2 linked regions of the Homo sapiens genome follow. The protein of the gene in region 2 purifies or fractionates together with the protein of the main gene of each other region. This does not show direct contact. Each region holds a gene or a part of one and is shown on either strand. Other genes may lie near its edges.

Evidence for each region. The genes of interacting proteins can lie anywhere in the genome.
Region 1: the proteins of TMED6 (region 2) and NETO2 purify together in Homo sapiens (affinity purification with mass spectrometry; 2 studies listed by BioGRID and IntAct, with this or other methods). This does not show direct contact.

Annotation. Positions count from the first base shown.
Region 1 is NC_000016.10:47,109,196-47,112,945, forward strand, and holds part of NETO2 (neuropilin and tolloid-like protein 2 isoform 1 precursor), read right to left. Parts: intron 517-3,750; coding exon 288-516; intron 1-287. UniProt on the Homo sapiens protein: Accessory subunit of neuronal kainate-sensitive glutamate receptors, GRIK2 and GRIK3.
Region 2 is NC_000016.10:69,349,650-69,353,399, reverse strand, and holds the start of TMED6 (transmembrane emp24 domain-containing protein 6 precursor), read left to right. Parts: upstream 1-1,613; 5' UTR 1,614-1,646; coding exon 1,647-1,859; intron 1,860-3,748; coding exon 3,749-3,750.

The DNA of each region.
Region 1 (3,750 bases), about 22 Mb from region 2:
AGTGCCGTGTGCCTGCAGTCTCAGCTACTTGGGAGGCTGAAGCAGAGGATCGCTTGAGCCCAGGAGTTTAAGGCCAGCCTGTGCAACAAATCAACACCCCACCTCTAAAAATTAAATAAAATTTAAAATATTTTAAATTTAAATAATATTCTTGCATTAAAAAGAGCTGTAGTAAAACAAAAAAAAACATCCTAAAATAAATATTTTAAAAAAGTAAATGCTGAGTGTACTGTGAATGAGTGAAAAATATGTAAAAGATCTCAATACTATAGGAATTATTTACTTACGCTCCACAAAGGAAGTAAAGAGCATTCGAAACCTGCTAAGCCGACTACCTTCATCTGCCCACATTCGAATCACTCCAATTCCTGTTTTAAGCATTACATCATTGGCCACAGTGCTGCAAAACTTGGCCTTCAGGTTTTCAATAGAACTGCTTCCATCATAGACTGCAACGAAGTTTCTCTTGCATTCATTTGAGTGCTCCATTTGATAATCTAGGAACCTCAAATAAATCTGTAATATTAACACAAAAACACTGCTTTTAAAAAGATATATTAATTTGAATTTTTCTATTTCTATTTTCCACAGACAACATGGGACACCGAATGACAGCTGACAGAAAACCATAATCGATAAATGGCTGATGCCTAAATAGTGAGAGGAACTAAGATTAATGATCTGTTTCTTTGGTTGTCTTTATAATGGAACCAAGCATTAAGGAACTTACTTTGTGTTTTGTCTATAAAGAGTAGAAACTTTTTGCTCACAAGGCATAACTATCTCACATTTTTCTCATTATAAAAGCAATCTCATGGTACTGGACAGGGGAGAAAATAAAATAATCACTCATATTTCTATTATTCCAACAATGCATGTGATTAATTGGTGAGTTTCTTTTCACTCTTTCTGCACATTAAAAAAACCTGTGTTTAATTGTAAGATATACACATCCTACTTTAGCTGTAACATATAAAAATGTTTTTATCTATACTCTTAGCCATACCTATTCCCGGATGTCCTATTATTTATTTACACAATATCCTACTGTTCTACATGGTTGCTTTATTTCACCTCTTAACAATACCTGCATTTTCAGACAGGCAGACGTCAACTGTACTATCAAAGGAAGCTCTATTAGCATCCCCCATTCAAATTTTATAGCTAAATGGTTCTAAGTTATTTCCTAAACACTCTTGACCCATTCTTGTTTGGCGATTTCTCTTACATTGTGAATTTAGATTTTAAGCATTAATCTCCAGAAGAGCCTAATGAAGTAGGTATCATGTTTTTTTGTGGGCAGAGATGAATCTGTTATTCGGTGGCAAGGATTAAACCCAGGTTGGTCTGACTCTAAATGTGCGTCCTTCTCATTCCATGAAGCGCTTTACATACTCACACAGTGTTCCCTGTTTGGGCTCTAGTTTCTCATATGTGACTCTATCATTAAAATAAAATTTGAGTGAGTGAATAAAGATTACCTTTGAATTGCCATTCAAGACATCTAATGAGTATTCACTTCCTAGCTATTATTTCTGAGGGAGCAGTATGCCACATCTACCCTTTAATTCGAAGAGATTAATAAAACAAAAATGTCATGTCATATATTCCCCCCCCACCCCACCAAATACCTTGATGGCATAAAACTAAGAGAGAACAACTTACAAAATATAGCTTAAAGAATTACATTTTGACTAAATAATTTTGGTTTATTTGAAATGACTGGTTCACCACTTCCGTGAGAATGGTGGAAAATTGGTAATGAAATAGGATTTCCAGTTCAAAACTTTACAAAGTCTTCATGCGTGTATTTTAACAAAGAAGCAATATGTTTTCTTAAATATATCAACAGTTCTCATTAGTTTTCCATCACTTATATAACCCAAACCCTCCGCTCACACTCTGGTAGCGAGCTCTAATGCTGTAATGACTTCCCTCTTCCACTAGACTGTGATGTCTTCCAATGGAAGGTCACTGGCTCAGTTTCATCCAGTATAATTCTTGCTCATGGCAGACAATGAGAAAGTGACTAGGCTTGTAAAACTATGACTTGGTAGAAGTATCAGTAGAATAATCAAGCTGTCTGAAGTATTTATATTTACTCTCTGCTTTTCTTTTAATCCAAATAAATATGGTATTATATAAGGCTATAGTAAATGCTCTTCAAAGACATATTTTTAAAAAAACATCGAGTTAAAGATAAATAATAACAAGATCACAGCACTTTTCTACTGTAAATACAGCTAAATATTGAATTGTTTAGTTCAACAAATTTTTGGGAAATATTCATAACGTGAATCTGACAAATTGCAATGTTGGGAGAAGGGCATAAACTACTTTTCTTTTACTCCAGATTGCATGAGAAGGGATCTTTTACTTACAACTTTCATCAAGTAAGTGACCTCTTACCCTATCCCTATATCCTACCCAGGGAGGCAGGGCAAGTTACCTGGATGGTGGGAGTTTGGTTTCTTTTTCCCTCCCCTCATAGGAAGTGGGACTGGGTAGGCCGGTCTGCTCTGCAGATGCGAACTTTCCCTGGAGTGGAATGGGCTGTTCTAGACTTAGGTGAGACGTAGAACTGGTGGGCAAGGAGTTGCCAACACTAATTAGATCATCTCTCTGCGTTGCTCTCTCTATCCTAGCCTTCACTGTGGTAAAGAGGCTTTTCCAACTCCCTACACACTGACACTTTTATTTCTCAATTGGTTCAGCACTCCACCAGGGAAAAGGGATGCTATTTATTGGAGCCCCTGAAGACCCCAACAGAAATGAAATCCCCAGAAAGCTACTATCATGAAAAGGCCACTGATAAAAGTGGACTAAAACACTATTTGTATACTCTTAAACATCGATGCCTTCTTTTGTATATTTATTTTTAAAATATATTTTTAATTTTAAAAATAGAGACAGGGTCTTGCCATGTTGTCTAGGCTGGTCTTGAACTGCCAGGCTCAAGTGATCCTTCCGCCTCAGCCTCCCAAAGTGCTGGGACTGCAGGCATGGGCCACCGTGACTGGCTTCTTTTTATATTTATAAATGGATATTTTTCTTAAACATCACCCATGAACTAGTTTCTCACATTTAGTATTCAAGGGTAATGGTGACTTTTAACATTTAATTTAGATTTCTTAAATAAAACCATCTATTTACACTTTTTTGTTTGTTTGTTTTCTTTTTTTAGACAGAATCTCACTCTGTCTCCTAGGTTGGAGTTCAGTCGCGTGATCGCGGCTCTCACTGCAGCCTCCACCCCCAATTCAAGAGATTCTTGTGCCTCAGCCTCCTGAGTAGTTGGGACTACCGGTGTGCACCACCACACCTGGCTAATTTTTTGTATTTTTAGTAGAGATGGGGTTTCACTATGTTGCCCAGGCTGGTCTCGAACTCTTGACCTCAAGTGATCCGCCTGCCTCAGACTCCCAAAGTGCTGGGTTTACAAGCGTGAGCCACTGCGCCTGGCCTATTTACACATTTAAACATTCAAATTTTAAAATTTGATCCAATTCCCATGTCAACTGTAATAATTTTTTTAAGTTTAACTGATTTACTTTTATTAAAAGCAATACAACATTCTTCTATAGTCAATATTCCAGGTAACGCTCCTAAAAATTTGTGAATATGGAATTATCTTTTCAAGGAATATTTCAATGAAGAATGAGATCTAATAAATATTGTTTAATTTCACTTAAAGCACACTTAATATTTTCATACTTACATATCTATAAAAATATGTTGTATTGTTCCATA
Region 2 (3,750 bases):
GACTAAGGCTAGGCACGGTGGCTCACACCTGTAATCCTAGCACTTCAGGAGGCCAAAGCATGGGGATCACTTGAGCCCAGGAGTTTGAGACCAGCCTAGGCAACATGGCAAAACCTCATCTCTACAAACAATACAAAAATCAGCCAGGTGTGGTGGTGCACTCCTGTGGGTCCAGCTACTTGGGAGGCTGAGGTGGGAGGATCGTTTGAGCCCAAGGGGGTGAGGCTGCAGTGAGCTATGTTTGTGCCACTGCACTCCAGCCTGGAAGACAGAGTGATACCATCTCAAGGAAGCAAAAAAAAAAAAAAAAAAAAAAGATTAGGACTGAAAAATGGTTAGGCAGTGTCAGAACTCAGAGACTGACAGCTTGAGAATGAGAAACACTGTCCTGCCTGGTGGTTAAGAGCATGAGCCCCCACCGGGGACCCAGCTCTGCCAGGTGTGCTTGTGGGAGCGTGAGCCACCACTGGAATCTCTGAATGTCTGTGTCCTCATCTCTAATGCCAGAGCTCACAATACCTCCCTTGCAGGGCTATTGTGAGAATAAAATAAGATGCAGGTAAATCTTAGCTCAGTGCCTGCCATGAAGGAGGTGGGTGTTGAAATCATGAATAAAAGAATAAAGATTAAGGATGTGAATAATATAATTGTCTTTAAGTGGGTTCTGGATAGTTTTTTCCCCCATGGGTGCTGAAGAAGTCCTGAATAAAAGAAAGATCAAGGCTGGGCGTGGTGGCTCATGCCTGTAATCCCAGCATTCTGGGAGGCCGAGGCGGGTGGATTACTTGAGGTCAGGAGTTCGAGACCAGCCTGGCCAACATAGTAAAACCCTGTCTCTACTAAAAATTCAAAAATTAGCCGGGCATGGTGGCAGGCACCTGTAATTCCAGCTACTCAGGAGGCTGAGGCAGGAGAATCGCTTGAACCGGGGAGGTGGAGGTTGCAGCGAGCAGAGATCGTGCCACTGCACTCCAGCCTGGGTGACAAAGCTACGCTCCATCTCAGAAAAAAAAAAAAAAAAAAAAAAAAAGATTGAGGCTTTGGATAATATAATTGTCTTTCAGTGGGTTTGGATAGCTTTAGGTGACCGTTAGGTGAAAGGCATCAGGACGAGGACTGTCAGTGGAGGGGTCTAAGCACCATCCTCTGGCACTGTATTCATCCATTTACATCTTTGCACACACATGCTGTGATTTGCTCTGAGCTGCAGCATTGGGGAGAGAGAAGTGTTGCCCCATGTGTTTATAGGAGCAATTTGATGTAAGAGAACAATCCCCCCAGCCAACTTTTTGTCAGTGTATTCAGAAGTTGTAAACTTACCCACTATTATATCCCCAAGAAGCAGGAACTAAAAAATGACAGCCCTAATGAAGGGTGGAAAGACCTCTTCTGAGGTGGTAGATTCTATGTAGCACCCATGAAGTAGGTTTGGTAAGCCACTGAGTTTTTGAGGTGAAAGCAAAATTTCCTCCTGCGAGCCAAACATGGGAGTATCATGGCAGTTCTATGATGAATATCTATGTGTGGCCCTGAAATGGGCCGTAATGTGACTTGTGGAGTTAATCATTAGCCCAGCGGTTGTCTGAACGACTTGATTTCCCTGGGCTGCGAGCAGTTCACCTGCAGAGGAGGCTCCAGAAAGCGGCATGTCCCCTTTGCTCTTTGGGGCTGGGCTGGTCGTTCTGAATCTAGTGACGTCTGCCAGGAGCCAGAAGACAGAACCTCTAAGTGGCTCTGGGGACCAGCCACTCTTCCGTGGAGCTGATCGATATGACTTTGCCATCATGATACCTCCAGGAGGCACGGAATGCTTTTGGCAATTTGCCCACCAGACTGGATACTTCTATTTCAGTTACGAGGTATGTGGGTGACTGGCCATACTGGGGGGCTTTTTTTTTTCTCCTTTACTCATAAAGTGGGTCAGGTTTTAGGCCAAAACAAGGTCTGGTTGTCTTTATTATGCTGTGATTCCCCACCTGTTAATGAAATGGACCTGCAGTTAGAGGGAAACTCCAGCTGGGTGAATAATCACCAACAGGAGCTAAAACATATGGTTTGGCTTCTTACATCAGGGGCCATGCTCAAAGCCATGGGGCAGACGGGGTGCCTCTCCCTGAAGAGGTAATCATTACATGTACTCGGATTTGGGGATGAGAGGGGAGAGAATACATTTTTAATATATTAAAACAAAATTGGATAATGGTGCTTTGGAGACTGATCCAGAGATTTCAAAGAAGGCTGCTTCAGCTTATGGGGTGGGGGAGTAAAGGTTCTGCTGCCTTTAGGAGCAATTCTGGCAAGTCAGAGATTCACTAGGTCAAGTTTTTTGTATTCGGCCAGTTAATCCTATTTTTTTTTTTTAGGACGGTAAGTGTTTTCAAGTTACTTATTCAAAGGTCAAGTACTTTTACCCATACTATGGTCTTATATCATGCTGTCCAAGGATGGTGAACTCAGTATGAAAGTTAGAGGCTGTTCATTTCCTTTGTTCTTTATCTTAGAAATCGGTTAACTTTCTAATTTTTGTTTACATAGTAATAGACTTTGTTGATCTTACTCCACTGTAACAACATTTATTTTAAATAAACTTATCAGAGACTTTTCTTACCTCTGAATTTCTATTAGAACAGCAGCCACTACTAAGCTCACTGTGGCCTGGCCTAATCAAGATCTAGCTTGGGAGCAAGTGTCCATGGAGTGCTTGTTGTAGGTGTGCACTGCCAAGCAGCAAATGCCCAAATCTGGGACATCATTGGGGAGCTCAACCACCAAGCAAGTTCATTCAAGAACTCTACAGCCAGGCCGGGTGCGGTGGCTCACATCTGTCATCCCAGCACTTTGGGAGGCTGAGGCAGGCGGATCACCTGAGGTCAGGAGTTCGAGACCACCTTGGCCAATATGGTGAAAACGCATCTCTACTAAAAATACAAAAATTAGCCGGGCTTGGTGGCATGTGCCTGTAATCCCAGCTACTTGGGTGGCTGAGGCAGGAGAATCGCTTGAACCTGGGAGGTGGAGGTTGCAGTGAGCCAAGATCACTGCACTCCAGCCTGGGTGACAGAGCAAGACTCCGTCTCAAAAAAAATAAAAAATTCTACAGCCAGAATCGTACTTTTTTTTTTTTTTTTTTGACAGAGTGTTGCTCTGTCGCTCAGGCTGGAGTGCAGTGGCATGATCTCGAGTCACTGCAATCCCTGCCTCCCGGGTTCAAGCAATTCTCCTGCCTCAGCCTCCAAAGTAGCTGGGATTATAGGCGCACGCCACCATGCCAGGCTAATTTTTGTATTTTTTAAGTAGAGACAGGGTTTCACCATGTTAGCCAGGCTGGTCTCGAACTCCTGACCTTGTAATCTGCCCACCTCGGCCTCCCAAAGTGCTGGGATTACAGGCGTGAGCCACCGCGCCCGGCCCAGAATCATACATTTTAGTGGATCCACACTAGCTGTGTGTTCCGAGCAAGGCATGTCTTCTTCACACGGGTGCTGTTGGCATTCTGGGCAGTTCTTTGTCCTGCTGTACTGTTTCTTACATTGCAGACGTTCAGCAATGCTGTGCTGCCTCCCCTTAACACCATCACTGTGATACCTCAGAATCCTCCAATCAACTCCAAACCCCAGCAGGGGGTTGGGCAGTCCCACCCCAGACAGAGACCGCTGTGCTGATGACCGTGGGACGTCAATCTTACCACTCAGCTGGCTTCCTCGTGATGTAGCAGGGGTTCTGCTACCTATTTAATGTGTCTTGGCAGGT